Linked DNA regions of Homo sapiens. The protein of the gene in region 4 interacts with the protein of the main gene of each other region in a pairwise test. Each region holds a gene or a part of one and is shown on either strand. Other genes may lie near its edges.

The links.
Region 1: the proteins of BOLL (region 4) and PUM2 interact in binary tests that used the Homo sapiens proteins (3 or more experiments, as listed by UniProt).
Region 2: the proteins of BOLL (region 4) and NPBWR2 interact in binary tests that used the Homo sapiens proteins (3 or more experiments, as listed by UniProt).
Region 3: the proteins of BOLL (region 4) and AGRN interact in binary tests that used the Homo sapiens proteins (3 or more experiments, as listed by UniProt).

What each region holds. Positions count from the first base shown.
Region 1 is NC_000002.12:20,305,836-20,312,863, forward strand, and holds part of PUM2 (pumilio homolog 2), read right to left. Parts: intron 6,589-7,028; coding exon 6,401-6,588; intron 5,829-6,400; coding exon 5,659-5,828; intron 2,750-5,658; coding exon 2,479-2,749; intron 2,237-2,478; coding exon 2,143-2,236; intron 1-2,142. UniProt on the Homo sapiens protein: Sequence-specific RNA-binding protein that acts as a post-transcriptional repressor by binding the 3'-UTR of mRNA targets.
Region 2 is NC_000020.11:64,104,556-64,111,791, forward strand, and holds the start of NPBWR2 (neuropeptides B/W receptor type 2), read right to left. Parts: upstream 3,011-7,236; 5' UTR 2,809-3,010; intron 2,368-2,808; 5' UTR 2,277-2,367; coding exon 1,275-2,276; 3' UTR 1-1,274. UniProt on the Homo sapiens protein: Interacts specifically with a number of opioid ligands. Receptor for neuropeptides B and W, which may be involved in neuroendocrine system regulation, food intake and the organization of other signals.
Region 3 is NC_000001.11:1,051,107-1,056,631, forward strand, and holds the end of AGRN (agrin isoform 2 precursor), read left to right. Parts: intron 1-146; coding exon 147-263; intron 264-346; coding exon 347-539; intron 540-621; coding exon 622-709; intron 710-886; coding exon of another isoform or gene 887-910; intron 911-2,354; coding exon of another isoform or gene 2,355-2,387; intron 2,388-2,646; coding exon 2,647-2,871; intron 2,872-3,341; coding exon 3,342-3,445; intron 3,446-3,717; coding exon 3,718-3,875; 3' UTR 3,876-4,270; coding exon of another isoform or gene 4,271-4,293; 3' UTR 4,294-5,010; downstream 5,011-5,525. UniProt on the Homo sapiens protein: Isoform 1, isoform 4 and isoform 5: neuron-specific (z+) isoforms that contain C-terminal insertions of 8-19 AA are potent activators of AChR clustering.
Region 4 is NC_000002.12:197,782,295-197,789,497, forward strand, and holds the start of BOLL (protein boule-like), read right to left. Parts: upstream 3,026-7,203; 5' UTR 2,762-3,025; exon of another isoform or gene 2,722-2,761; coding exon of another isoform or gene 2,707-2,721; exon of another isoform or gene 2,338-2,706; coding exon of another isoform or gene 2,335-2,337; intron 1-2,334. UniProt on the Homo sapiens protein: Probable RNA-binding protein, which may be required during spermatogenesis. May act by binding to the 3'-UTR of mRNAs and regulating their translation.

The DNA.
Region 1 (7,028 bases), about 180 Mb from region 4:
TGCAAACCCCTATGAGAAAAATTTTAAAGCACTCAAATGACACTACAGTAAACTTGAACAAAAATAAAGACACATCACACCCTGGACAAGAATACTTGATGTCAGCAGGGCACGGTGGCTCACGCCTGTAATCCCAGCACTTTGGAAGGCCGAGGTGGGTGGATCACTTGAGCTCAGGACCAGCCTGGGCAACATGGTGAAACCCTGTCTCTACAAAAAATTTGCCAGGTGTGGTGGCGTGCACCTGTGGTCCCAGCTACTCGGGAGGCTGCGGCGAGAGGATCACTTGAGCCTGGGAGGCAGCAGTTGCAGTGAGCCAAGACTGCACCACTGCACTCCAGCCTGGGTCAAACAACAAGACCTCCTTGTCAAAGAAACAACAACAAAAACAATAACAACAAAAAAAACCTGATGCTTGATGGCATAAAGATGTCAAATTTCCCTAAGTAAATTACAACATTTAATCCTATCTTCTGGAAGTAGATAAGCTAATTTTGAAGTTCATACAAAAAAGCAAATAAGCAAGAACCAAAAACTTAAAACCCCAAAAAAGAAGAGTAATAGATGTATTAGCCTGCCTAATAATATAAAGCCTCGAGAAATAAAAACCGTTGTGCTGTCCATGAATAGACAGGTAGCAGTACATTTCTAACATAAGAGGACAAACAAGGGATAAAGCGGGTGGGGAAAAAAGGAAAGAGAGGCAAAAAGAGGAAAGAAACGGGGCCAGAGTACATGCTGCGACTGGCACTCACCTATAAATGTGGACTTTTTTTTTTTTTTTTTTTTCTTGAGCGGAGTCTCTCTCTGTCACCCAGGCTGGAGTGCAGTGGTGCAATCTTGCTTCACTGCAGCCTCCGTCTCCCAGGTTCAAGCGATTCTCTGCCTCAGACACCCAAGTAGACGGGATTACAGACCCCCACTGCTAAGCCCAGCTAATTTTTGTAATTTTGTAGAGACGGGGTTTCACCATGTTGGCCAGGATGGTCTCAAACTCCTGACCTCAGGTGATCCACCTGCCTCAGCCTCCCAAAGTGCTGGGATTTCAGGATGGCGCCACTGTGCAGCCTGACATTTTTGATGAAAACAAAAAATAGGCCAGACGCGGTGGCTCACACCTGCAATCCCAGCACTTTGGGAGGCCGAGGGGGGGCTGATCACCTGAGATCCGGAGTTCAAGACCAGCCTGGCCAACATGGTAAAACCCCCGTCTCTACTAAAAATACAAAAATTAGCCAGATGTGGTGGCAGACGCCTGTGATCCCAGCTACTCAGAAGGCTGAGGCAGGAGAATCTCTTGAACCCAGAAGGCGGAGGCTGAAGTGAGCCGAGATTGCCCCACTGTACTCCAGCCTGGGTGAGAGTGAGACTCTCTCTCCAAAATAAACAAACAAAAAAACTGAAAAATAAAAATTAGGGCTTAGGAAGCCTTATTGCACTAACACAGAAGAATATGACATTAAGGAAAGACAACCCCCTTCCATAGACTCTGATGTTGACAGTCTTCATACAAACTTAGACAAAATCAGACAGGCATAAAAATGTTTACACAAATCTACACCTGATAAAATAAAATAAAACTATACATACATACTGCATCAATATCATATTACTGTTTTTGATACTGTACTGTAATAATTTAAGTGTAGCCATTAGGGGGAACTGGGTAAAGGGTATAGGGAAGTTATTCCCATATTATTATTGTGGGAGGTAGTGGGGAGACCTAGTACAGACAACATCATGTACCAAGCTTGAATTCTAGCAGATTAAAAGTCAAAGACCAAATAACTTCATGGAAAAAAATATTTTACAAAAAAATGTAAATGAACATACTGACTTGATAATGGACACAAGTAAATTTGAATTTCCAAGTGTCTGACTTTCTCAACTTCACATTGGAGAAAAACTTATGTGATAATAACTTTTATCGAATTACAGATTTTTATTTAATTAAACCAGTGATGCAAATAATAATCAGAAACAATTCCCTAGTTAATAAACACCTTTGTCATACAACCTATTACTTGTTGATCTCAGATGTTTCAAAAAGTAACAAAACCTCACCAATCAGTAAACGAAAAGTGAAACATCCTAGACATTTTAACAAGACTTTGGTCAAAATGAGAACGTATGAAGACTCACCTATATGTGGCTGCTGAGCTGCTGCTAATGCATATTGCTGCTGTTGAGCTGCAGTTAACTGTTGAACTGTTAGTGCATTAGTCCTCTGAAAGAGCTATTAGGGAAAATATTTAACACAAAGATTAGTGTCAAAATCTTTCATTTCTAATTAGAAATCTGAATAAAACATTTTAAACATTTTTTCTTTGGGAGGACTTTCTCAAATACAGGACACTTTAATCAATAAAACATTTAGTACTCAAAAACCCCTACCATTCTTTTCAATGCCACATAGCACTTCAGGCTAAACCAGTATACAGTTAAGAGGACCTTCTTAAAGAAAGAACATGCTTTTACCTGCTGCTGGGAATTGTAGTCAAAAAGGCCTACAGTAGCTCCTGAAGAGTCCATTGGTACCTGATTACCAGGATAGTCAAACTGTAAGGATTCCAGACCAACTTGTTCCATGGCATCCAGATTCTGAGTTTCAGGATTTGAAAATTCTTCAACAAGTGGTTTATTAGCTGTAGGATTAGGAAGAGGCCCCAGTCCTTCTGAGGGATTAGTATTGGGGCCCAAGCGCTCAACTACTTCAGTTGGAGAGGCTTGACGACTTCCAGGAGTACGACTACATAAAGAAAATAGAAAAGCATTATGAATAAAAGTAACAAGTCAAATAGCGAAATGGGAAAATAGAAAAATCATGAAAAACAAATGGTCATAAAACACAATGAATAAGGCATTCTGGGTCACTATGCCACCTTATCACATTTTTTTCTATTTAATATAACTTTCCTCTTAACAGCTGGCATGATTTGAGGATTTTAAAAATATTATTAATGATTACTCCCTTCAATCTGAATAACATAAAGATATAATGCAATTTTACACATTAGAAAAACTGGCCAGTATCACAACTTAGGCTTATACTACCTGAAATCTCTGTCTCAAGTCACAGTCACAAAGAACAGTGTATTAACAGCAGGTTATTAAGTGGCAAATATGAAAAAGCTCAAAACCAAAACCCACTTACCATACTGCTGTCCTGCCCTGCCAACACATAATTTTGCCATAACATCCTGCTTAATAATACTTAAGAAAAAAATCTGGCCATAAGAGATCATAATGGTCTTCATTATTTAAGGGGCCAAAATGTGGGATGCAACAGGAAAAGAGTACTATACATGATAAGTCAAAAGGCTGACTTCTGACTTTGTCTTTTAAATATGATTTTGAGCAAGTCATGTCATCTTTCAAGCTGCAGTCTTCTTATTGAGGAGACTTAAGAGATGACCTTTTGATTCCAACTAATAAGAACAAAAGCAACTATTTATGAAAGCCCACTATGAAAGCCCTCCGAAGACCATGCTTATTATACCAAATAGTTCAGCTGAAACCATCAGAAAGAAATCGAAATGTATGACATTTATCAAAACTTAAGTATACACAGCAAGAAAAGGATCTTTCTACATTAAAAAAAAAAAAAAGGACCTTACTACTATACAGCCTCCTTAATTTTCACAAGGAATTCATTAACACTGGACTAAATTTTAAGCACTGGCTTCTCTTTTTATTAACACCTTCATGGTCTAAACTTACATTTCTAGCCCATTATCAATCCTCATTTATAGCTTATCTTATACATAAATGTTTTATATAGGATCCTTTCCTTTGTAAGAAAGAGTTTATTGTTCAGAGTAACTATGCATTCACAGGATATTCAAACTTGAGTACATTAAGTAAATGGCAGTAACTGTTCTACCTGGCTTTTAATGCCAGTTGCTACAGCTAACTCTTCCCAACTTCAGGTGGTCTGAATTGGAATAAATTTGCTAACATATAGAGTAGTTTACAAAGCAATTTCTTGATTACAAGAATTGTTCTCTGTAGATATGTAAGCAAACTTACACTCACTTAAACATCAACCATTTTGTCCTTGCAAAATCAGAAGATTTCAAACTCCTTTCCCTTTAAGCCACACCTAATTTTGTACGTGAACATCCCAAAGGCTCTTTTTTCATTTGGAACATATGGAATGAAAAGATAAAACTAAAAGCATTTTCTTTAAAATCAGCCAATTTTTCTTTAAAAAATAAGTGTCCAATAGTTCTTTTACTCATTTCTGTTCTACTCCAATAATGTATATATTGATGACATATTAGTTAATGTAGAAATTAATGATGTGCTGGCATAGTGACCGTATGACCACAGCTGTTGATTGTGTTAACACATTTTAATACTGTCAAGTAGTAACTAATACTGTATCTAAAATAATTAGTAATTTAAAAGATACCTAAAAACTTAATGGAATAAAATTAGAATGCTAATAAATGTAAAGTCCACATTAATATTTCAGGGGAGACGTATAACCTCTCACACAAAGTAACTCGTATATAGCAAAAATAGAGGACATTAGGAAAAAAAGTAATGCTATCAGTGGTGCTATTTTCTTGCTATAGTTAATGGTGTATTAACACTTCAATTATAAATGTATACTCTGAAGGGTTTATCATCTACTTAATTTTACATGCATTTCCTTTACTAAAACTTAGATTAGGTAATAGTGAAGAACAAACTCGAAATAAATTTCTAAATCTGAATAGCATTAAATGTATTTCTTGTTAAAAGAGGTTTACTGGTTTTGGATGCTTTTTTGCACTCAGAACAGATAGAAATGGCACTGTTTTTAAGAAGCATTGTTACTTTGCTTTTGAAGGCAATAAATGTAAAAGTATACCACCCACCATATACCTAATACTTTTTTATGTAAGATTCCATGGTCATAAGACCTCAAAGAAACAACTCATTTTCAGATACAAGCTCCAAAGCACCTCATTATTGAAATACTACAGAAAATCAATACAAAGAAACAACTCCCTAATATATAGATAAATATATACTGTCTAATCTAAGACCAAAGGCTAAAGTACTCATTTAACTGCCATAAAAAGACAACAAAAGGCTACAATGTAAAAAATTATGAGCTTAAAGCTAACTTTTAGAAGTCTCTAATATGTTCCCTATTTGCTATTTGCAGGAATAATCTTAAGTATTAGCACAAACTCATATATTTTAAGAAAGATTACTGCTCCTAAGCTAATTTTGTCTCCTCTTAAAAGTTAAATGGGAGGCAGGGCATATATACTCAGAAGGAAGAAAACTCCACTGAAAGGTGCTCAAAAGCACTCCCAAGAGGGGAAAAAAAAAAATCAGAGTAAACCTACAGTTCACTAAAATTTAACAGAGAGGAAAAAGTTCAAATTTAGACTATTATATTACCAGAAAAGTAAGCACAGCTTCTAACATTACTCCTTCAACAGAATGCACTGTTTCAGAGGCTGGTTTGAAGATTATTTTTTTAAAATGGTTCATAATCACAAATTTTCTTTATAGTAAAAAACTAAAATTTGTCCAGATTAACACAAAGTTCAAAGGAAATAAACCTAAATGATGAAAATGTCTAAATCAGTCACATCAACTAATAGTAATAATCCCTAAAAAGATACGCTTTTCTTCTTGAGAAAGTTAAAATCTTACTTAAAATCTTTGCAATCGGCATCCATTCCATTTGGCAAACCTCTGCCATTTATTTTAGAATCATCATCATCTCCTTGTTTAAGATCTCTGTTTTGGTCCTCCTCAAATGGAGAAGCCTTGCCTTTTTGATCTCCTTTCTCAGGTCCATCTGTTTCAGCATCTCTAGTGCCCTGAGGAAAAAGAATCTGTTTGATTCTGAATATTTAATAGAACACAAAAAAAAGGCACCATAAGGTGACCTAACACTACACTACAGTGCATGTAAACAATAAAAGCATTGAATCTTATTTAATTTCGTAGTCAATTAATTTATCAAAGGCCAAAAAATTGCGTACAAACTAGTGATTTATAACAGAAGGGCTAAGGCAACCTTAACTATAGCGGTGCTGGAAAAGCAGTTAACACCACAAACTAGATTAAAATTTTCTTTAATGCGTAGACGATTTTGTTTAGTTACTTTCAGATCAAGCACTACCAGGAATAAGCAATTTTAATTTTACAGATTATGTTTAAAAATTAGTATGATTTGACTTTTGTAACATGGTTCAGATTATACATATTTCCAATGGTTCTATCATTTCACGTTTTTCAAGTGGCTAAGCAGAAGAATAGCAATAATAGTTACAAAATTTCTCTTAGCTATAGGAAGGGCACAGAAAAACAAATTGAATTAAAAATAAAAGTAACGTAACCAAATAACTCTCAAGCAAATATTAAATATTTCTTTATTCAAAATACTTACAAAATTTCCCTTCCTAAATCGAGAATCCAATTTATCAGCAGGAGAAGAACTTAATACATATTCTACCATGCTCACACCAAGGCCTCCACTTTCTGATCGCGGAGACAGTATTGCATTTACTTCACTGTTTCCATGAAAACCCTGTCCAGATCTTCTCTGTACCATAATAGGCTGGGACATTGAATGGTCTGTTTGGAAGAAAAAACACAATTATATACTTATACTTTTAAGTTAAACAAAATGTAGTTAAATTAATATACTGAAGTAAGAAAAATCAGCACATTGTTTTATTTTGAATGTTATTACTATAATCTTTATATAAAGCTCTTCATAGGACACAAACAAATGGAAGAACATTCCATGCTCATAGATAGGAATAATCAATATCATGAAAATGGCCATACTACCCAAGGTAATTTACAGATTCAATGCTATCCCCATCAAGCTACCACTGACTTTCTTCACAGAATTAGATAAAATTACTTTAAATTTCATATGGAACCAAAAAAGAGTCCGCATAGCCAAGACAATCCTAAGCAAAAAGAACAAAGTTGGAGACATCACGCTACTTGATTTCAAACTATACTACAAGGCTACAGTAACCAAGACAGCATGGTACTGGTACCAA
Region 2 (7,236 bases), on a different chromosome or scaffold from region 4:
GCCATGGTGAGGACTGTCGGCCACAGCAGGGGAGCACAGGCCATGGAGAGGACCGTCGGCCACAGCAGGGGAGTATAGGGGAGCACAGGCCATGGAGAGGACCGTCAGACACAGCAGGGGGGTACAGGGGAGCACAGGCCATGGAGAGGACCGTCGGCCACAGCAGGGGAGTATAGGGGAGCACAGGCCATGGTGAGGACTGTCGGCCACAGCAGGGGGGCACAGGGGAGCACAGGCCATGGTGAGGACTGTCGGCCACAGCAGGGGGGTACAGGGGAGCACAGGCCATGGAGAGGACCGTCGGACACAGCAGGGGGGCACAGGGGAGCACAGGCCATGGAGAGGACTGTCGGACACAGCAGGGCGGGTACAGGCCATGGCAAGGACCGTCGGCCACAGCAGGGGGAACACAGCAGCACAGGCCATGGCACATGGGCACGGCGGGGCTGGGCCTCCTGCTGGAACTCCACTTGGGCTTCAGGCCACGAGAGTGGATTTCTGGGTCTCATGCGGTGCAGGTGTCCGCCTTTGCAGCAACACAGCATCGCTGCTGCCTGAGGTGCCCGCACTTACCACCCCCCGGCCCCATCTTGGGGAGAGACTATGTAACGTGGCCCAGGTCAAGATCACAGTTCAGGTTCCCTCCCCTCCCGACCACTGTCATTAGGGATCCTGAGTCCCAGAGCCTTCCAAGGGGCTTGTCCATCTGTCTGTCTCTCGTGGGTAAGTGGGCCCGGGATGCTTGCTGTGTGGGGGCCTCTGCCAGGACCTGGATCCCTGCTGCTGTCCACCCAGGGGCTGTCCAGGAAGCAGAGACATGGGAGGTATATGCCCACGGCTGTCTGTAGGTCTGGTGGCCAGCGTGTGAGGGTCTGTGTCTCCTTGCGTGGAGAGGACAGCACTGGGATGTGAACAGGCCGGGCGTCCCCTGAAAGAGACAGCCGGAACTGGGTGGGGGTGGGCGTGATGATGGGGGTGATGGTGGGGGTGGTGGGGGGGGTGGGCGTGATGATGGGGGTGGGGGTGGGGGTGGGGGTGATGGTGGGCGTGATGGTGGGGGTGGGGGTGATGGGGGTGGGCGTGATGGTGGATGTGATGGGGGTGGGCATGATGATGGGCGTGATGATGGGGGTGGTGGTGGGGGTGATGGTGGGGGTGGTGGTGGGGGTGGGGGGGGGTGGGCCTGATGGGGGTGTGGGCATGATGATGATGGGCGTGATGATGATGGGGGGTGATGATGGGCATGATGATGGGGGTGATGGTGCCCAGGCCCTTCAGCACCGCAATATGCTGCGGAAGTTCTTCCGGAAGTTGTCATCTAGAAAGGCGTAGAGGAAGGGGTTCAGGCACGAGTTGGCGTAGCTGAGGCTGGTGATGACGTAGGACATACTGATGACCAGTGGGGTCTGGGGCAGGTCCGTGGTCAGGGCCACGACAGAGGCCAGGTGGAAGGGCGTCCAGCAGAGGAGGCACACGGCCAGCACGACGAGGACCAGGACGGTCACCTTCCGCCTGGCCTTGCCTAGAGCCTTGGCTCCAGAGCGGAGCCGCACGGCCCGCAGCCTGCGCAGGAGGTCTGTGTAGAGCACACAGATGGTGCACACGGGCAGCACGAAGCCCAGGACCAACGTGTAGACACGGCTGGCCTTGAACCAGACCTGCTCGGGCCACGGGAAGCTCAGCCCACAGCTTGGGACCTGCAGCTCGTTGCTGTAGACGCCAGCGAAAGAGAAGAAGGGCAGAACCAGGACCGTGACGCCCAGCCAGACACACAGGCTGGCGACCTTCGCCCCCCGGTAGGTGCGCCAGGGCATGTGGCGGGACCTCACGGTGGCCAGCACCACCAGGTATCGGTCCACGCTCATCACGGCTAGGAAGTAGATGCTGGAGAAGATGTTGTAGTGGTCGACGGCCAGCACCAGCTTGCAGAGCAGCTCCCCGAAGGGCCAGTACTGCAGCAGGTGCTCCGCGATGTTGACGGGCAGTACCAGCGTGAAGAGCCCGTCGGCGACGGCCAGGTTCAGGATGAACACGTTGGTCACCGTCTTCATCTTGGGCGCCCTTAGGATTACAAGGATGACGGCCGTGTTGCCAGTCAGCCCCACAGCACAGATCCCGGAGTACACGGCGGGCAGGAGCACATAGAGGAACGGCAGTGGCTCGGAGAAGGTGGCATTGTGGCCAGTGCCATTGTCCTGAGAGACGTTGGCACCCATCGTGGGGAGGGAGAAGGAGCCCCTGCTGTCAAGGGGCTCTGGGTGCCCAGCGGCCTGCATTGTAGCTGGGACCGTTGACGATTTGCGCCCTGGGCAGGTGGGAGGTGCCTTGGAGTTGGGTATCTGGTTGGGGGCCTCCTTGGGCTGGATTCTAGGAAAGAAAAACAACCAGAGACTTTGAGATCCGGCCGTCTGTTAGGGCACAGCCACTCCAGGTTCTCTGGCAGAGACTGCGGCCACTTTGCCAGGTCAAGGACATGGGGCCAGAGGGAGCCTGGTGGGGTGTGTGGGGGCCTCCTCCCGCCTCTTCCTGGTGAGACTTCAGCAGATCAGTTCCCTCCTCCCGCAGAGAGCAGCTGCTGGCCACCCTCCTGGGAAGAGATGTGGATCCGTCCCTGCCCCAGCAACCCGCAGATGCACGGGCTGCGTAGAATCAAGCGGTCCCTTTGGAAACACACCTCCCAAGCTCATCTCTGGCTCCCTTGAATCTGAAGGTCCTTCCCTCAGGGGTCTTGGAGTCTGCACCCTCCCTCACACCCTCCCGAGAGATGCTGCAGACCCTGCTGGTCCAGCTACTCTTCTCTCCACTGACCTGTCCAGTGCTTCGAGTCCAGAAGTTGGTAGCCTTGGTGTGTTCCTGGTTTTGGCCAGTACAGGCAGTCGCAGGGATGGAGGGCGAGGTGTGGTCCTCACTGACAGACCTCCAGCTGAGGTTTCAGGAGTTTCAAGACCTGCCCTGCTGGCTGCCTCAGCCCCGGCTGCGAGGTTCCCAGCCTGGTGTCAGTGCTGATGCTGGTGAGGGAGGGAGGCGGATCCCCCTTGCTGACGTGGAGCCCGGAAGGCAGGCCCCACCTTCCCCTGAGCTGCAGTAGCGCCTGCAGTCGGCTGTCCCAGGGTCTCCTCAGCATTCACTTACCCAGGCAGACTCCTCAGTGGGCGGCTGAGGCACGTGTGCGCCTGTGTGTCAGGAAGGGACTCCATGCAGGGGCCTCTGGGTGTGCCCAGGTCTTCGGGCAGAGGGCACTGAAGGCATCTGTGCCTCTGTCCGGGAGTCACTGTGGGCCTGGGCACCCTTATCTGTGAACATGGGTGTCTTGGTGGGTCTCCTGCCCCACCCTGTGTGTGTACATGGTGTGTTCCTGTGTGTGTGTGCCAGTTAGGACATGTACGTGTGTGGGCCTGTGTCTGCCTGTATGGGGGTCTCTGTGGGTGAGCTCTGCGTTGTATCTGAGTGGGTCTACATGTCCTTGGCTGAGTGTGGGCATCTGGGGGGTCTGTATGCCCTCATGTGGAAGCAGAACTTGTTGGCCATAGGCAACCCACCTTCTTTTTTTGTCTTTTGCTAAAAGAGGAACTCAGCCTAGGCAAGCTGTGAAAGGCTGCAGAGAAGACGTTCTCACGCTGACACGTAACTCTCCCGCCGTCCTGCAGAGGTGGTGAGCATCACACTCTGCTCTGGGTTGGTCTTTAAGTCCTTCCCTTCTCCCTGCTTTTCTTCCTTGCTGGACGCACCCTGGCTTATCCAACCCGTGTGTGTGCAGCTCGGCCGCATCTGGACCTGCTTTGCAGGCAACGCCACAGCTGACACGAGCAGTCGCCAGTCTCAGAGCCGCTCCTCAGCGGAGACGTGTTGGGTCAGAGGGTCTGTGTTTTCTTTCCTTTCTTCTTTTTTGAGACAGGGTCTTGCCCTGTCACCCAGGCTGGGGTGCAGTGGCACTATCATGGCTCACTGCAGCCCTGACCTCCCTGGGCTCAGGTGATCCTCCCACCTCAGCCTCTCAAGTAGCTGGGACTACAGGCATGTGCCACCATGCCTGGCTAATTTTTGTGTTTTTTTTTGTAGAGACGGGGTTTCACCATGTTGCCCAGGCTGGTCTCGATCTCCTGAGCTTCAGCCTCTACCTCAGCCTCCCAAAGTGCTCAGGTTATAGCCATGACCCACCGTGCCTGGTCACTGTGTGTTTTCAGTCTGGGGAGATGTGTCTGCCCATCGAGACTGTGCCCGCTGCCTGTGGGGTTGCAAGGATGTCACCGCACACTCATGGTCGGCCTTCTTTCCTGAGAGTTGCTCTGTCAAGTCTATTGGTTAGGACAGGAGCCTGGGCAGTCGCCCTGAGTACCCTGATGTCGCCAGCCTGAGGGTACACTGTGGGTGGGCCCCGAGCTACCCTTCTATGGGCTGTGCCATGTGGATGTTGAGTCCGGGGTCAGGGAACCCTGCTGAGATATCTCACACTCCTCTTCAGCCAGTTTGGGGATGGCGGTGGGGGGGATCTGTGGGTGTGTCTCGAGGGAGCGTGGGGCTTGTAGCCACAGTTTGTCACATAAGTGGAGCTTGACGCCCACAAGGTCAGGGGATGGTGATTAGCAGCCGTGAGGAGAGGGTGCATTGGGGCTGAATTTTGTGATTTGGGGTGTTCGTGGGGTCGGGAGGGGTCAGTTCACAGCTCCTGGAAACCAGAGGCGTGACACAGAGAGGCCAGGCCTGGCATGTGGTGGCCCAGGCATTGACCAGGGTGTGGGCTGGGCCAGGCGGTCACTGGTCTTGGCTGGGGAGCGGCCGACCATGGCCTCAGCACCGGGCACTGGGAGAATGTCCCAGGCCTGCTGTCACCGAGCTGCTGTCCTGGGGTGGGGCTGGCCACGCTGGCCTGATTCTGGGCCTCCCTGGGGGCCTGCTGTCACCGAGCTGCTGTCCTGGGGTGGGGCTGGCCACACTGCCTGACTCTGGGCCTCCCTGGGGGCATTGCTGGGGGCCTCTCCCTTCCATGCATTTTGGGAGGGGCCCAGGCTAGTGCCGGTGCCTTCCTCTGCCCCCCAGGGCTGGCTGGCAGCCTGCCCAGTGACCCCCGTGTGGCCTGAGCTCTGGGCACCCCTGCTGGTCTTTGCCCTGCAGGATACCGACTGCCACCCACACCTTCTTCAGAGCAGGGTGTTCCAGGAGGGTCTTCCCTTAAGCCTCAGTAGTGGGGAGCCCAGTGTCAGAGGCATCCCTCAGAGCACAGAATCTTCCCATGCAAAGATCCCACTGTGTGTCTGGCTTCCTCTGAAGCCAACCACGAGTCTGGGTCCTCTTCCCTCCACCGGTATCTGGTGAGTCTGGGAATCGGAGCCCCTCCCAGACTCTAGCTCTGCTCTCCTGAGCCTGTCCTGAAGGCTGGTCTGGCACCACCGCCCGCCGGTCACATTGGAGGTGGGGTGCGCATGATGGAAGGGATGGGGACCCTGAGGGCAGTGGGGATGGGGGAGACTGCCAGGTGCTGAGCTCAGGACCCCGGGGAGGCCGGCTGGAGGTGTCAGGTCCTCCTGGCCACAAAAGCAGCAGCCCCAGGGGCCTTTTCCTCCTCCCAGAAGCACCTCACCGATGCCCGCTGCAACACCAGGGCCTGAGCCGGGGGTGCTCCCCCGTCTGTACCCCCAGCACTCAGGGCTCAGAAAGGCCCTTTGCTCTGTTCGTGGGCTGGGCATTGTTCCAGCCAGCTGTGAGCTTGTGAGAGCATCGTTCTGTGGAAATGGTTTCCATTTTCAGAAATAAATTGGCCTTTTCAAATGAACCTGTGAGGCCCTTTGGGTGAAGAGAGGAGAGGCCAGGGAGGGAGGGAGCCGTGGTCAGCTCTGTTGGGCAGAACGGTGGTGGGGGCCTGACAGCAAGGCCACTGACATGGCACATCCTCTGTCTGGGGTGTGGGGTGAGGGAGTGATGGGTGCCAGTCAGTGTGCATCTGAGCATTTTGTGGGGCTGCGTGTGGGGGTCTTGCAGGGACCTGAAGGAGACCCCTAGGGCAGGGGCCAGGGAGAAGCGCCAGGACCCTGGGACAGCCTGAGCAACACACAACATAGCTGTGCTGGCTTCACGCTTGTTGCCGCTTCACATAGGTGTGGCAGCTGCCCTCCACCTGTCCCCCTGTGTGCAGGGACACCTGTCCCTCAGTCCGTGCTGCGACTTGGATCTTCACACGGGCATGCATATGTGTAGCAGGCATACAGACCCAGAGATTCATACAGACTCCAGTGTGCTTGTTGACCATCTCATCTCCAGCCAGGCAGGCCCTGGTAGGAGGGGTGGATTCTGCCCTGTGGCCAGAGTCCAGGCCTGTCTGCCCTGCTCTCTCTCCTCCATCAGCTCTCCAAGATGAGCCTCAACTGTAGCTGTGGCCCTGCAGGTTAAGTCCTCCCAAGAGGCCTAGGCCATTAAGACCAGTGAGAGGGCCGGGGGCGGTGGCTCATACCTGTAGTCCCAGCACTTTGGGAGACCAAGGTGGGCAGATTGCTTGAGCCCAGGAGTTCGAGACCAGTCAAGGCAACATGGTGAAACCTCATCTCTACAAAAAAAATACAAAAGGCCGGGTGCGGTGGCTCACGCCTGTAATCCCAGGACTTTGGGAGGCCGACGTGGGCAGATCACCTGAGGTCAGGAGTTCAAGACCAGCCTGGCCAACATGGCGAAACCCCGTCTGTACTAAAAATACAAAAATTAGCCGGGCGTCATGGTGGGTGCCTGTAATCCCAGCTACTCGGGAGGCTGAGGCAGGAAAATTTCTTGGACCTGGGAGGCGGAGGTTGCATTGAGCCGAGATCATGCCACTGCACTGCAGCCTGGGGGACAGAGCGAGACTCTGTCTCAAAAAAAACAGAAAAACAAACATTAGCTGGGTATGGTGGTGCATGCCTATAGTCCCAGCTGCTTGAAAGGCTGAGGTGGGAGAATCGCTTGAGCCCAGGAGGTCAAGACTGCAGTGAGCCGAGATCGTGCCACTGCACTCCAGCCTGGGTGACGGAGTGGGGCCCTGTCACAAGGAAAAAAAAAAGACCAGCGAGAGTTCCAGGCCTGGTGTTCTCTAAGCAGGTAATTGGGCAGCTTAGCTCTCTCGAAAGAGATAAGTAATTCAGGGCCAGTTTCCCTCAGAGTGGGAGGTGAATTCTCCAGGGAAGCTGGGAGAAAACACACTTTATTTATAAAACTGGGAAGGGGCCATTTCTCATTTAAATTCAGGATTCCCCACCATACCTCGGGGCACCC
Region 3 (5,525 bases), on a different chromosome or scaffold from region 4:
CCACTAAGGACCCTGCCATTTCTGTGTGATTAACGCTGCCCCCTAGATAGGCAATGGGCGGGTGGGGCGGGTGCGTGCAGGTGCCTGGGCCCTGGGTCTGCACCGTGGGTGGGCTCTGCACAGCCACTTACCTGGCGTCCCCGCAGGTTCCGCACACCGTCCTCAACCTGAAGGAGCCGCTCTACGTAGGGGGCGCTCCCGACTTCAGCAAGCTGGCCCGTGCTGCTGCCGTGTCCTCTGGCTTCGACGGTGCCATCCAGCTGGTATGTGGGGGCGGGGCGTCCCAGCAGGGCCTCCGGGGCGGGCGGGGTGGCAGGCGGGACAAGGCCCTCACCCTGCCCTGCAGGTCTCCCTCGGAGGCCGCCAGCTGCTGACCCCGGAGCACGTGCTGCGGCAGGTGGACGTCACGTCCTTTGCAGGTCACCCCTGCACCCGGGCCTCAGGCCACCCCTGCCTCAATGGGGCCTCCTGCGTCCCGAGGGAGGCTGCCTATGTGTGCCTGTGTCCCGGGGGATTCTCAGGACCGCACTGCGAGAAGGGTGAGCCTGGCACAGGGCAGGGGGCGGAGGCCGGATGGGCCCGGAGCCCACGAGGCCCCACCCTCACCTGCCTATCTCACAGGGCTGGTGGAGAAGTCAGCGGGGGACGTGGATACCTTGGCCTTTGACGGGCGGACCTTTGTCGAGTACCTCAACGCTGTGACCGAGAGGTAACGTGCCATCCTCTGCTGGCTGTCGGTTCCATCTGTGCCCTCGGGGCGGGACACCGGACCCCCACACCAGGAGGGCCCAGGAGGGGACGGCCCGGTGCTGCCACCTCTGTCCTCCCGCCTCTCTCTCACCTCCCGGTCCTCCCGCCTCTCACTGTCTGTCTCTTTGTTTCCAAGCGAACTGGCCAATGAGATCCCCGTGTGAGTAGAGCTCGGCGCCCCCCGCTCCCTCTCACTCCCACTCCTCCATCCTTCCTGGTGGGGAGCAGAGTCCGGAGCCCCCGGGGAACTTTCCATCCCTTGTGGCGGAGGATGGGGGTCCGGCGCTATTTGGCTGCAAGAGGCCGTTTCCTGCCTCAGAAGTGCAGTCGCCCCTCCCAGGGCACAGGCCGAGGGTCGCCCCACAGCCAACCCCCACCACTGAGGCTGTACACACCTGTGCGCATATGCATGCATGTCTGTGTCCGTGTGCACTTCCGCGTGTGTGAACATGCAGCTGTGTCTGTGCGTGTCTATGTATATGGAGTGGATGTGCAAGTGTGTGTGAATATCCAGCTGTGTGTGTGCATGGGTCCATGTATATGTGTGTGTGTATATGTGGGGGGGACATGTAGATATGCGTGTGTGACTATGCGGCCGTGTGTGTGCATGGCTCCATGTATGTGTGTGTATATGAGGGAGACATGCAGGTATGTGTCCGTGTGTGTGTGTGTGCATATGGGTCCATGTATGTGTGTGTATATGAGGGAGACACGCAGGTGTGTGTCTGAGTGTGTGCGCACATGGGTCCATGTATGTGTGTGTATAGGTGAGGGAGACATGCATGTGTGTGTCCGTGTGTGTGCATGGGTCCATGTGTGTATAGTGTGTACACATGGGTCCATGTATGTGTGTGTATATGAGGGAGACACGCAGGTGTGTGTCCGAGTGTGTGTGCATGGGTCCATGTGTGTATAGTGTGTGCACATGGGTCCATGTATGTGTGTGTATATGAGGGAGACACGCAGGTGTGTGTCCGAGTGTGTGTCCATGGGTCCATGTATGTGTGTGTATATGTGGGGGAGACAGGTGTGTGTCCGAGTGTGTGCATGGGTCCGTGTATATGCGTGTATATATGGGGGGATATGTAGATGTGTGTGTGTATGAACAGGTGTAAGTGGGGAGCACTCAGGTGTGTCTGTGTGTGTTCGTGTACACGTGTGTATGTGTGTGAACATGGAGGGGTGTGTGTGTCCGTGTGTAGGTTTGCGTGCATGCACACATGCATGTGTGTACTGGGGCATCCAAGCCCCTGGTCTCCACTCCATACCACCCTACGCCTACCTCCTTGATCTCTGCGCCCAGCCTTGGCTGTGCTCCCCTGCTGTCTGCACGTGGGTGTCTGCACGTGGGTGTCTGCATGTGGGTGTCTGTGCCCTCAAGTGTCTCGTGTCTGCACGTGGGTGTCTGCACCCTCACGTGTCTCGTGTCCGCACAAGCATGTGTAGGTGTCCCTGCTGGGCTCTTTGGTGGGCGGCCAGTGATCCTCGAGGTCACGCATGTCTTCTGTGGGTGCCTGCTCCTTGCACCCCACAGTGTTGAGATGGGTTTGCATTGGCCCCGCCTGTCCCCTGCTCACCCGCCTCCCTCTCTTCCTGCTTCTAAGCCCCGAAACTCTGGATTCCGGGGCCCTTCACAGGTGAGCACGTGGCAGCAGTGCCTGCAGACCCCTGGCTGGCCCATCTGTCCTCCCGCCCGTCTCTCTGATCTCTCTCTGCCAGGCTGCCCCTGTCTCCATCCCTCTTCTCCCTCCCACTGTCGGTGTCTGCCCACCAGCCACCCCTGGGTCCCGTCACAGCCCTTGTGGCCTCCGCAGCTGGGGCCCTTGTCCTCCCGCCTCCCCCACCCTGTCCTGTTGCCACCTTCCTAGAGGCCCTGACCTGCCCTCTGCCCTCCAGCGAGAAGGCACTGCAGAGCAACCACTTTGAACTGAGCCTGCGCACTGAGGCCACGCAGGGGCTGGTGCTCTGGAGTGGCAAGGCCACGGAGCGGGCAGACTATGTGGCACTGGCCATTGTGGACGGGCACCTGCAACTGAGCTACAACCTGGGCTCCCAGCCCGTGGTGCTGCGTTCCACCGTGCCCGTCAACACCAACCGCTGGTTGCGGGTCGTGGCACATAGGTGAGTAGGGAACCCAGCGTGCCGAGAATAGTGGCGAGGGCTGCCCAGACTTGCCCAGCTGGGCTGTGTCCAGTCACTTGTGACCAGGGGTCAGGGAGGACACGCCTTGCTGCCTGAGCCGAGGTCACTGCCAGTGGGAGGAGGAAGGGCCAAGAAGATGCAGGAGAAGCAATGATCAGTTTCCACGTCTGAAAGGCATCCCGGCCCTGCCCGGAGCCTGCCGGGGGTCGCTCCAGTCTGAGCCTGGCCGTCGCCTCCAGCAAAGCTTGAGCTGCAGGAATGTCCCCGGCCTTGGCTCCCAGTGCCCTCCTTGGGGTCAAGGCCACCTCATCCTTGCCCCCAGGGGTGATACCTCGGGGGTTCTCCAGGCTGAGGCACCTGCAGGGCATAGGAAGGATGCAGGGCTTATGGTCTAGAGGAGGCAGAGGGAACTCTGGGCCCTGATGGTCTCCCCCTCCCTGCACACCCAGGGAGCAGAGGGAAGGTTCCCTGCAGGTGGGCAATGAGGCCCCTGTGACCGGCTCCTCCCCGCTGGGCGCCACGCAGCTGGACACTGATGGAGCCCTGTGGCTTGGTGAGTGTTTTGGGGAGACTAGAGAGGGATGCCCAAGGGTCTCATGATATCCGAGGGACAGACTCCACCCCCCAGCGCCCACCCTTGAGTCAGGGTGCATGTGAGCCGGCGGGCTGGGCTCTCTTCTCCCGCTGTAGCCCCTGCAGTTCCCAGTGCTGTGGGGCCGGGAGGCGGGTGCCCAGGTGTGGGCCCCCTGCTGGTCACCTGCTCGTTGGGGTGCCCATCAGCATCACTGAGTCACAGCCGGGTGACTCCCACTGTCTGTGCTGCAGGGGGCCTGCCGGAGCTGCCCGTGGGCCCAGCACTGCCCAAGGCCTACGGCACAGGCTTTGTGGGCTGCTTGCGGGACGTGGTGGTGGGCCGGCACCCGCTGCACCTGCTGGAGGACGCCGTCACCAAGCCAGAGCTGCGGCCCTGCCCCACCCCATGAGCTGGCACCAGAGCCCCGCGCCCGCTGTAATTATTTTCTATTTTTGTAAACTTGTTGCTTTTTGATATGATTTTCTTGCCTGAGTGTTGGCCGGAGGGACTGCTGGCCCGGCCTCCCTTCCGTCCAGGCAGCCGTGCTGCAGACAGACCTAGTGCCGAGGGATGGACAGGCGAGGTGGCAGCGTGGAGGGCTCGGCGTGGATGGCAGCCTCAGGACACACACCCCTGCCTCAAGGTGCTGAGCCCCCGCCTTGCACTGCGCCTGCCCCACGGTGTCCCCGCCGGGAAGCAGCCCCGGCTCCTGAATCACCCTCGCTCCGTCAGGCGGGACTCGTGTCCCAGAGAGGAAGGGGCTGCTGAGGTCTGATGGGGCCCTTCCTCCGGGTGACCCCACAGGGCCTTTCCAAGCCCCCATTTGAGCTGCTCCTTCCTGTGTGTGCTCTGGGCCCTGCCTCGGCCTCCTGCGCCAATACTGTGACTTCCAAACAATGTTACTGCTGGGCACAGCTCTGCGTTGCTCCCGTGCTGCCTGCGCCAGCCCCAGGCTGCTGAGGAGCAGAGGCCAGACCAGGGCCGATCTGGGTGTCCTGACCCTCAGCTGGCCCTGCCCAGCCACCCTGGACGTGACCGTATCCCTCTGCCACACCCCAGGCCCTGCGAGGGGCTATCGAGAGGAGCTCACTGTGGGATGGGGTTGACCTCTGCCGCCTGCCTGGGTATCTGGGCCTGGCCATGGCTGTGTTCTTCATGTGTTGATTTTATTTGACCCCTGGAGTGGTGGGTCTCATCTTTCCCATCTCGCCTGAGAGCGGCTGAGGGCTGCCTCACTGCAAATCCTCCCCACAGCGTCAGTGAAAGTCGTCCTTGTCTCAGAATGACCAGGGGCCAGCCAGTGTCTGACCAAGGTCAAGGGGCAGGTGCAGAGGTGGCAGGGATGGCTCCGAAGCCAGAAATGCCTTAAACTGCAACGTCCCGTCCCTTCCCCACCCCCATCCCATCCCCACCCCCAGCCCCAGCCCAGTCCTCCTAGGAGCAGGACCCGATGAAGCGGGCGGCGGTGGGGCTGGGTGCCGTGTTACTAACTCTAGTATGTTTCTGTGTCAATCGCTGTGAAATAAAGTCTGAAAACTTTAAAAGCATTGCTTTTGTCCATCCTCACCAGCGCGCTGGCCCGTTGGCTTCTTGCTCCGCTTTGTGGTGGGAGCACGGACTTGGAGCTCCCTTGGGTGGCCCTGGATGGAGCCAGGCCCTGCACAGGGATCCTTGTGGCTGATGAGGCCCTGAGTGGGGAGCACACACTGCTGAGCACTGTGGGAGGCGGGGCCGTGGAGGCAGGAGGCTCTCTGGCGTGCACGTGTGGGTGCGTGTACGTGTGGGGGTGTGTGTGTGTGGGTGCGGGTACGTGTGGGTGCATGTGCCTGCTCTCTGGCGTGCACGTGTGGGTGCGGGTACGTGTGGGTGCGGGTACGTGTGGGTGCATGTGCGTGTGGGTGCGTGTGCCTGCTCTCTGGCGTGCACGTGTGGGTACGTGTGGGTGTGGGTGCGTGTGCCTGCTCTCCGGCGTGCATGTATGGGTGCATGTACGTGTGTGTGGGTGCGTGTGCCTGCTCTCCGGCGTGTATGTGTGGGTGCGTGTGCGTGTGGGTGCGTG
Region 4 (7,203 bases):
CAAAGTCACCCTGTGACTCTGATGGATCAAGATTAAAAACAAGACCACTCCATAATCATGTTTGAATGCTGACAAAAACAAAGGCATTGCCCAAACCACAAGAATAACCAAACAACCCTCCATTCTGGCTGATATGAGTGACTGCTCCTTCTTTATCAGCTATAGTTTTAGCCTCGATCCATTTTTCTTTCCTTTTAGATAAAAGTTAACACATCCAATCATAGAATTACTACCATTTCCTGACGCTATACATTCCAGAGTAAAGCCCTACTTCCTTAAACCCTCTCTAGAAATTGCTCAACAGAAGCCTATATCCTGTAAGTTCTAACACCTTCTGATTGAGAGGCCCCATGGTTTATGTTTTCCCTTGTTTGAACAATTAACAGACCCAACTTTACTAAATGACGCATGTGTTCCTGGTGGTCTTTAACTAATGGTCATCGACAAGTTAATAAACTCTAACATTCACATTCACCATTTTCAGCCTGAAAGTCAAAATTTTAAATGCACTTGTCAATTTGAAGATTGGACTGATTTTGTTAAAAAATTATATACTTGTAGCTCATAAATGTTTATTCCAAAGAATTAGCTCAGTACATATCCACATGTTCACAATTCTAAGTTAGAGGACATAATTTAAATTTTAATAAATATATATAAATGTATAAGCCTTTGCAGAATGGTAAGATAATAGACTTTTAAGGTATAACTGAAAAAAAACCCAAGACTTGAGAATCACATTGAAGAGAAACCAATTCAAGAACTGGTGAATTATTTTCCATCTGGAAACACTAAACACACTTCTGAGACAAACCCCATAATATCCTAAAGACAAACCCCATAATATCCTAAATGTGTGCTTCAAAAAACTTGAAGTAAACTGGGTGTTGTGGCTTGTGCCTGTAATCCCAGCTGCTTGGGAGGCTGAGGCAGGAGGATTGCTTGAGATCAGGAGTTCGAGACCAGCCTGGGCAACAAAGAAAGACCCCATCTCAAAAAGAAAGAAAAAGAAAATAACAAAAGCTTGAAGTTCATAATTCCAATTCTCTGAGAAACAAACTCATGAAAATGAATCTCCAGCTCAGGTAATAAAGTTGTTCTTTTTCAAATTTGTTCTGCTCTTTCTTCTCTGGCCAATACAATCACAATCCCTAAATTAATCTTTGCAAGATGTACAGAGAAATGACTAGGGCAGGAGTGGCAATTGGGCTATAGGCTGGACCTTATGGGCTCTCTTCCCCATCCAGCCTTAAGGAAGTATGTACTCCTAATAAGGGAATATGTAAATACTTCTTTTAAAACACAGAAAAGCCACCACATTTAATAATTACTATGTTGTAGTTTCCAATGAAAGAAACTGGGAATCTAATCTTAACAGCTTTCTCTCTGGGCACTTGGAGGTTATTTGTGACTTCAGTCACTTCGCTCAGTAGGATATAATGCTCAGAATGGGTAATTCTGGAATGCTTAGTATTTTTCAACTATGGATTTTGTATTGCTAGAGATAATATAACAGCTCTAGTAGATGTAATCTTGTCTTTCTGCCCATTTGTTTACAGTGTCAAAATTACCTATTTGCTAAATTTAAAAAATCATTCTTCATGAAATTCTCTTATTGAAAATAAGATGTACTAATATGTTCGCAAGTTTAAGTAAAAGACAAACCCCATTATATTTCATTGAGAGAAGGATGAAATGAACGGAAGTAAACAGTGCTTTATTTCCAATCTCGAGAAACTAAAGGATACTCCCTGAGAAAAGAAAAACAACCTTTCACACTCAATTCACTTCATTCTCCTCCACTCTCTAAGGCTCTATTGTGGGCTCGCTCTGCTTAAGTTTTCTCCCTCATCATTTTCTAACATACGATATAGTTTACTTAGTATGTTTATTATCTGTCTCCACTATTATGTAATGCACCAGGGCAGAAGTTTTGCTTTTTTCATGGCAGCATCTAAAGTACTGACAGTACACAGCAGGTGCTCAATAAATATCTGTTGAATGACTAAAAGTGAATCATTTCTTCAGGAGAGACCTGCTCATGATATGCCAAATAGGCTGAAGGCTAAAGAATACAGTATAACAGCAGTCTAATACATATATATATATATATATATATATATATATATATATATATATATATATATATATATATTTGAGACAGTCTTGCTCTGTCGCCAGGCTGGAGTGCAGTGGCGTGATTTCGGCTCACTGCAACCTCCGCCTCCCTGGTTCAAGAGATTCTCCTGCCTCAGCCTCCTGAGTAGCTGAGACTACAGGTGCGCACCACCACGCCCAGCTAATTTTTTTGTATTAGTAGAGATGGGTTTTCACCATTTTGGCCAGGATGGTCTCGATCTCCTGACCTCGTGATCCGCCCACCTTGGCCTCCCAAAGTGCTGGGATTACAGGCGGGAGCCATCGCGCCAGGCCTACAAAATATTTTAATGTTAGCAATAGCAAGGCTCAGGTGGAGGCAACATCTAAGTTCATTATAAACAATTAGCGATGCATTGAGTTAAACAACAAAGAAAGCCTGAAATTCCACTAGCAATAATTCCGCATGTGTTACGGAAACACCTAGATGGGGACTGTTGCCGGGTTTGAAGGCTCCTCCGTTTGCTAAAACTTCCAGCACTAGAGAGTTTATTAAACTACTCCTCCAAAGCAATGTGCCCTCACTGGCCCCTCCCCTTGAGAATCAACCTCGAGATCTAGCATCTATTTTGCAAACGAAGACAGCAGGAACGGGCGGGCTAACCGTCGCAGTCACTGCCTCGGCGCTCCTCCCCCTCCAAGGCCAGCAAGTTGCGGCACTGGGGGAAATGGCCGCGGCGACAACTTCCTCGAGTTCTCTCGGGTCATCGTGAACTTGGGCACCGAAACGAGGATCCACCCCCTCCCCACCAAAGTGCGGGAGGGAAAAGAAGGCTAGCCAGCGAGAAATTTTGCCCCACAAATCCGCCAGCAGCAGTGGCGGGAAGCCTCAACGGCAGCGACCCCGCCGCTGGCCTCGTGCGCAGCTGGTCCCCACCCTCGCGCGGCGCTCCCTGATTGGCTGCTGGCGGCGGGACGGGGCGGGGCGGGATGGCACGTTGCCGCTGCGCCTCGGGCCTGTGCGGGCAGTCCTCCTTCACTTCCCCAAGTCCACCCTGACTGGCTTGGGTGCACAGCCAGGGCTAGAGTGTCCGGGTCCCGCCTGGGCCACAGGCGGGCCCTGCCAGGTCTCTCAGACCTTCCGGTCCTCGCTGACCAGTCGGGGAGTGGAGGCGTCGACCGCCCTGGCAACTCCTCGCCTTGGGCGGCTGGGTCGAGTTCGGCCGCAGGGAGCGTCAAAGACGCTGCCTAGCCCAATTTCGGCGGGAAAGCGGTTTACCTGCTCGGACTTCGCTGGGTGCCTGGCAGCCCGCCGCCTCCCGAAACATCCACGCCTGAGGTCCCCTGGCCCGTCTACACCCAGTCCAGGCCCCGTGGCGGCGCCTTTCTGACCCCCATGACACAGCCAGACGAGGTCTGCGGGCGGGTGGCTCCTGGCAGCGGTCGATGGGGCACCTGGCCACGTTTCTTCCCAACCAGATAGCGAGCGTTTGGGGCCTTCACCTCGCCCCTCCAAGCCCTCAGGGACAGGCTCCACGCTGCTCCTTCTCCCCGCTATCCCGCGCCCTGGGGCCCTGATCGCCGTACTCACCGGCCCGGACTCGGTTTCCATCTTCCTCTCTGCTCTTCAGAGACGCGGGGTAGGGAAAAGAAGCCTAAAGTTTGAAACCACCTTCACGCCAAGGCAGCAGCGCTGCTTGTCCTGCCTGGGACTCTCGCCCCCTGGCGGCGAGGGTGGCTGTGGCAGCTGCAGGGAAGCAGGCTCGGACCCCGGCCCTGAACCTGCCACCTGGCGGGTGGGGAGAAGCGGACTGCGTCGCCTCGGGTGGCAGGTGGCGGTGCGGGCGGGCGCTGCAAGCCGGAGAGGGGCGCGGGAGGGCGAGTTTCGGCTGTGGCCCTGGGACTCCGAGCCGGGGCGTCTCAGGGGCAGAGCGCACGGCACAGCGGGGCGGGCGTGGGGCGTGCGGAGCGAGGGCTCGGTTCTGGGACCCCTCTCGCCTTCTCTCAGACGGCTGGGGAGGAGAGAGCGAGCGGTCAGGCAAAGCTCCATGCACGCCTTCCCCTCTCCTCCACTTGAGAAGAGTCGGCCTCTGGGACTGGTGGGTTTCGAGAGGTTGAGGTGACCTTAAGGCTTTACTGAGGTAGAAGAAGCCGGTTGACGGGCGACTTCCGAAGACTGGTGTAAAGCGAAGAAGGTTCTAGAGTCAAACTCTGACTCTCGGGGCCTGACTCGCAAAACTCGGGGGCTCCCGAGAAGCCGCGGACGCCGCTCTGCACCTGTTGCCGCCGTCACTCATCCCGCCAGGCGGGCGGGGCCGCGCGGGTGGCTTGGTCAGGACCTGCCATTCAGCCCAGTCGGGCTCCGGTGCTCGCCCCGGACGGCGCCCCAAGCGGGTCCCGGCCCCGCTGAGCACCTCCAGCAGTGGCACAGCCTCTGGAGGGGTCCGGGACGAAGCCACCCGCGCGGTAGGGGGCGACTTAGCGGTTTCAGCCTCCAACAGCCTTGGGATCGCCTTTGGAAGAAGATTGCGCTTTTTTTCTTAAATTAATGAATTAATTTACTAATTATTTTTATTTTTGAGACGGAGTCTCGCACTGTCGCCCGGGCTGGAGTGCAGTGGCGCGATCTCGGCTCACTGCAACCTCCGCCTTCCGGATTCAAGCGATTCTCCTTGTCTCAGCCTCCCGAGTAGCTGGGATTACAGGCGCCCGCTACCACGGCTAATTTTTGTATTTTTAGTAGAGACGGGGTTTCACCATGTTGGCCAGGCTTGAACTTCTGACTTCAAGTGAGCTGCCTGTCTTGGCCGCTCAAATTGTTGGGATTACAGGCTTGAGCCACCGTGCCCGTCCAGTTGACTAATTATTTAGACACGAAGGCTCACTCTGTCGCCCAGGCTGGAGTGCAGTGGTGCGATCACGCTCACTGAATTCTCGACCTCCTGGGCTCAAGCGATCCTCCCACCTCAGCCTTCTGAGTAGCTGGGACCACAGGCAGGCCCACGCCACCATGCCTGGCTGAAAGAAGACTGCTTTGTAAATAATACGTATTTCTAGTAGGTAGCTAAAATGATTACAACTGGATAAACTTATAGTAATGATTATCATTATTATAGCTGCCATTTATCAAGTACTCACTTTGTTTCAGGCACAATGCTTTATGATCAGTATCATTTAATCTTTTCATGCTCACAGCAACCTTTCAGATAGATGCTCCAATTATCGTCATAGTACGTGATGAAGCAGAGATTTGAAGGATAAGTAATTTGGTCAAGATCTAAAGCTGTAGGAGGTTTAACCCTCGTCTCCCCCCCAACCCACAGTTCTTGATCATAACCATTTTGCCACATATTTTTAAAGAATCAGCAGTAACAACTGTTAAAATTTACACCAGTAATAACTATTGTACACACTACTATAAAAGTTTGACTTTGGGTTACTTTGCCTTCAAGATATAGAATTAAAAACAGAGTGAATATATTAATTTTTGATTTATTCAAAGATTAGCTCTTCATATTATTTTACCCAAAATAAAATGGGAAACAATTTTTGTTTATCTTACCCGAAGAATCCCTAAAGTCATTATACATTTCTGCATGCAATTTAAGCTCATTTTACCAGGTTTCAGTCTCTGTGGAAATCGAGAATACAAACCTATTTAGATGAAAACTCATATTCTAAAGCATAATAATCTTACTGTTCAATACCAGTAGAACTAATCTTCTTTGGGCATTTTTTTTTCCTAGGACTGTTGCTGGATTTGGGTAGATGTTACTATCCTCTCTTGCCCAAAACATTTTGACTAAAAACACTTATTTTCAAGAACTACATTCTCTTAAAAAATGTATTCAGCGCAGTAGGTGTTTAATCTGACAAAAATTTACGTAATTTAGGGAACGCTAACTGTATTTCAAGGCTGGTGTTGGGTACTAGAGGGATATACTTTATTTTCAGTGTGGCAGTTCTCTGTTCTGCCTCTTACTATTAATTCTTACACCAAAAGGAAAGTTCAGCTTTAAAACTTGGATAAACCACATAAAATTATGCAATGCACCCCAATTTAGTAGACACTTAACAGAGTTCCTATTCTGTGCAGTACATAATGGAATATAATGTGGGAGATATGAAGATGAAGAACAGGGGTGTCCAATCTTTTGGCTTCCCTGGGCTACATTGGAAGAATAATTGTCTTGGGCCACACATAAAATACATAAACACTAACGATAGCTTATGAGCTAAAAAAATAAATCACAAAATCTCATAATGTTTTAAGAAAGTTTACGAATTTGTGTTGGGCCGCATTCAAATGCGGCCCATGGGCCACCAGTTGGACAAGCTTGAAGAACAAGGTCAAACCTCTGTTCTCAAAGCATTTTAAATCTAGAAGGATAGAAAAAACTAATTACTCCAAACAGTATAATATAAATATGCTTATAAGAAAATAAAATACAGGCATAACAGGCTGAGTGATATATTAACAATGATCAACGGTCTGTGGGAGAACAGAGGATAGCATCATAGAGCACAGTGTCCAGGGCTGGGTAAGGGCATTGTTAAGGCTGGAATGCTGGTCTGGGCAGAAAAATTGAGGGAAAGATATTGAGCCTGCATCATGTACCTAATGCTGGGCTAGCCACATTCTTTTTAAGTCTTAGTTCTCTCTTTTTCTTAGTCTCTCTTTTTCTCTCTCTCATTGGAAACCTGAGTCTTAGAGAGGTAAAAGTGACTCTCGTGGTCACATTGCTAGTAAGTGGTGGATGTCATTTTCAAAACTTTGTTCCTTTTTTTAAATTATACCTTAAGTTCTAGGGTACATGTGCACAACGTGCAGGTTTGTTACATAGGTATACATGTACCATGTTGGTTTACTGCACCCATTAATTCATCATTTACATTAGGTATTTCTCCTAATGCTATCCCCCCCCTACCAGCCCCCTACCCAACAACAGGCACTGGGGTGTGATGTTTCCCACCCTGTGTCCAAGTGTTCTCATTGTTCAGTTCCCACCTATGAGTGAGAACATGTGGTGTTTGGTTTTCTGTCCTTGCGATAGCTTGCTCAGAATGATGGTTTCCAGCTGCATCCATGTCCCTGCAAAGGACATG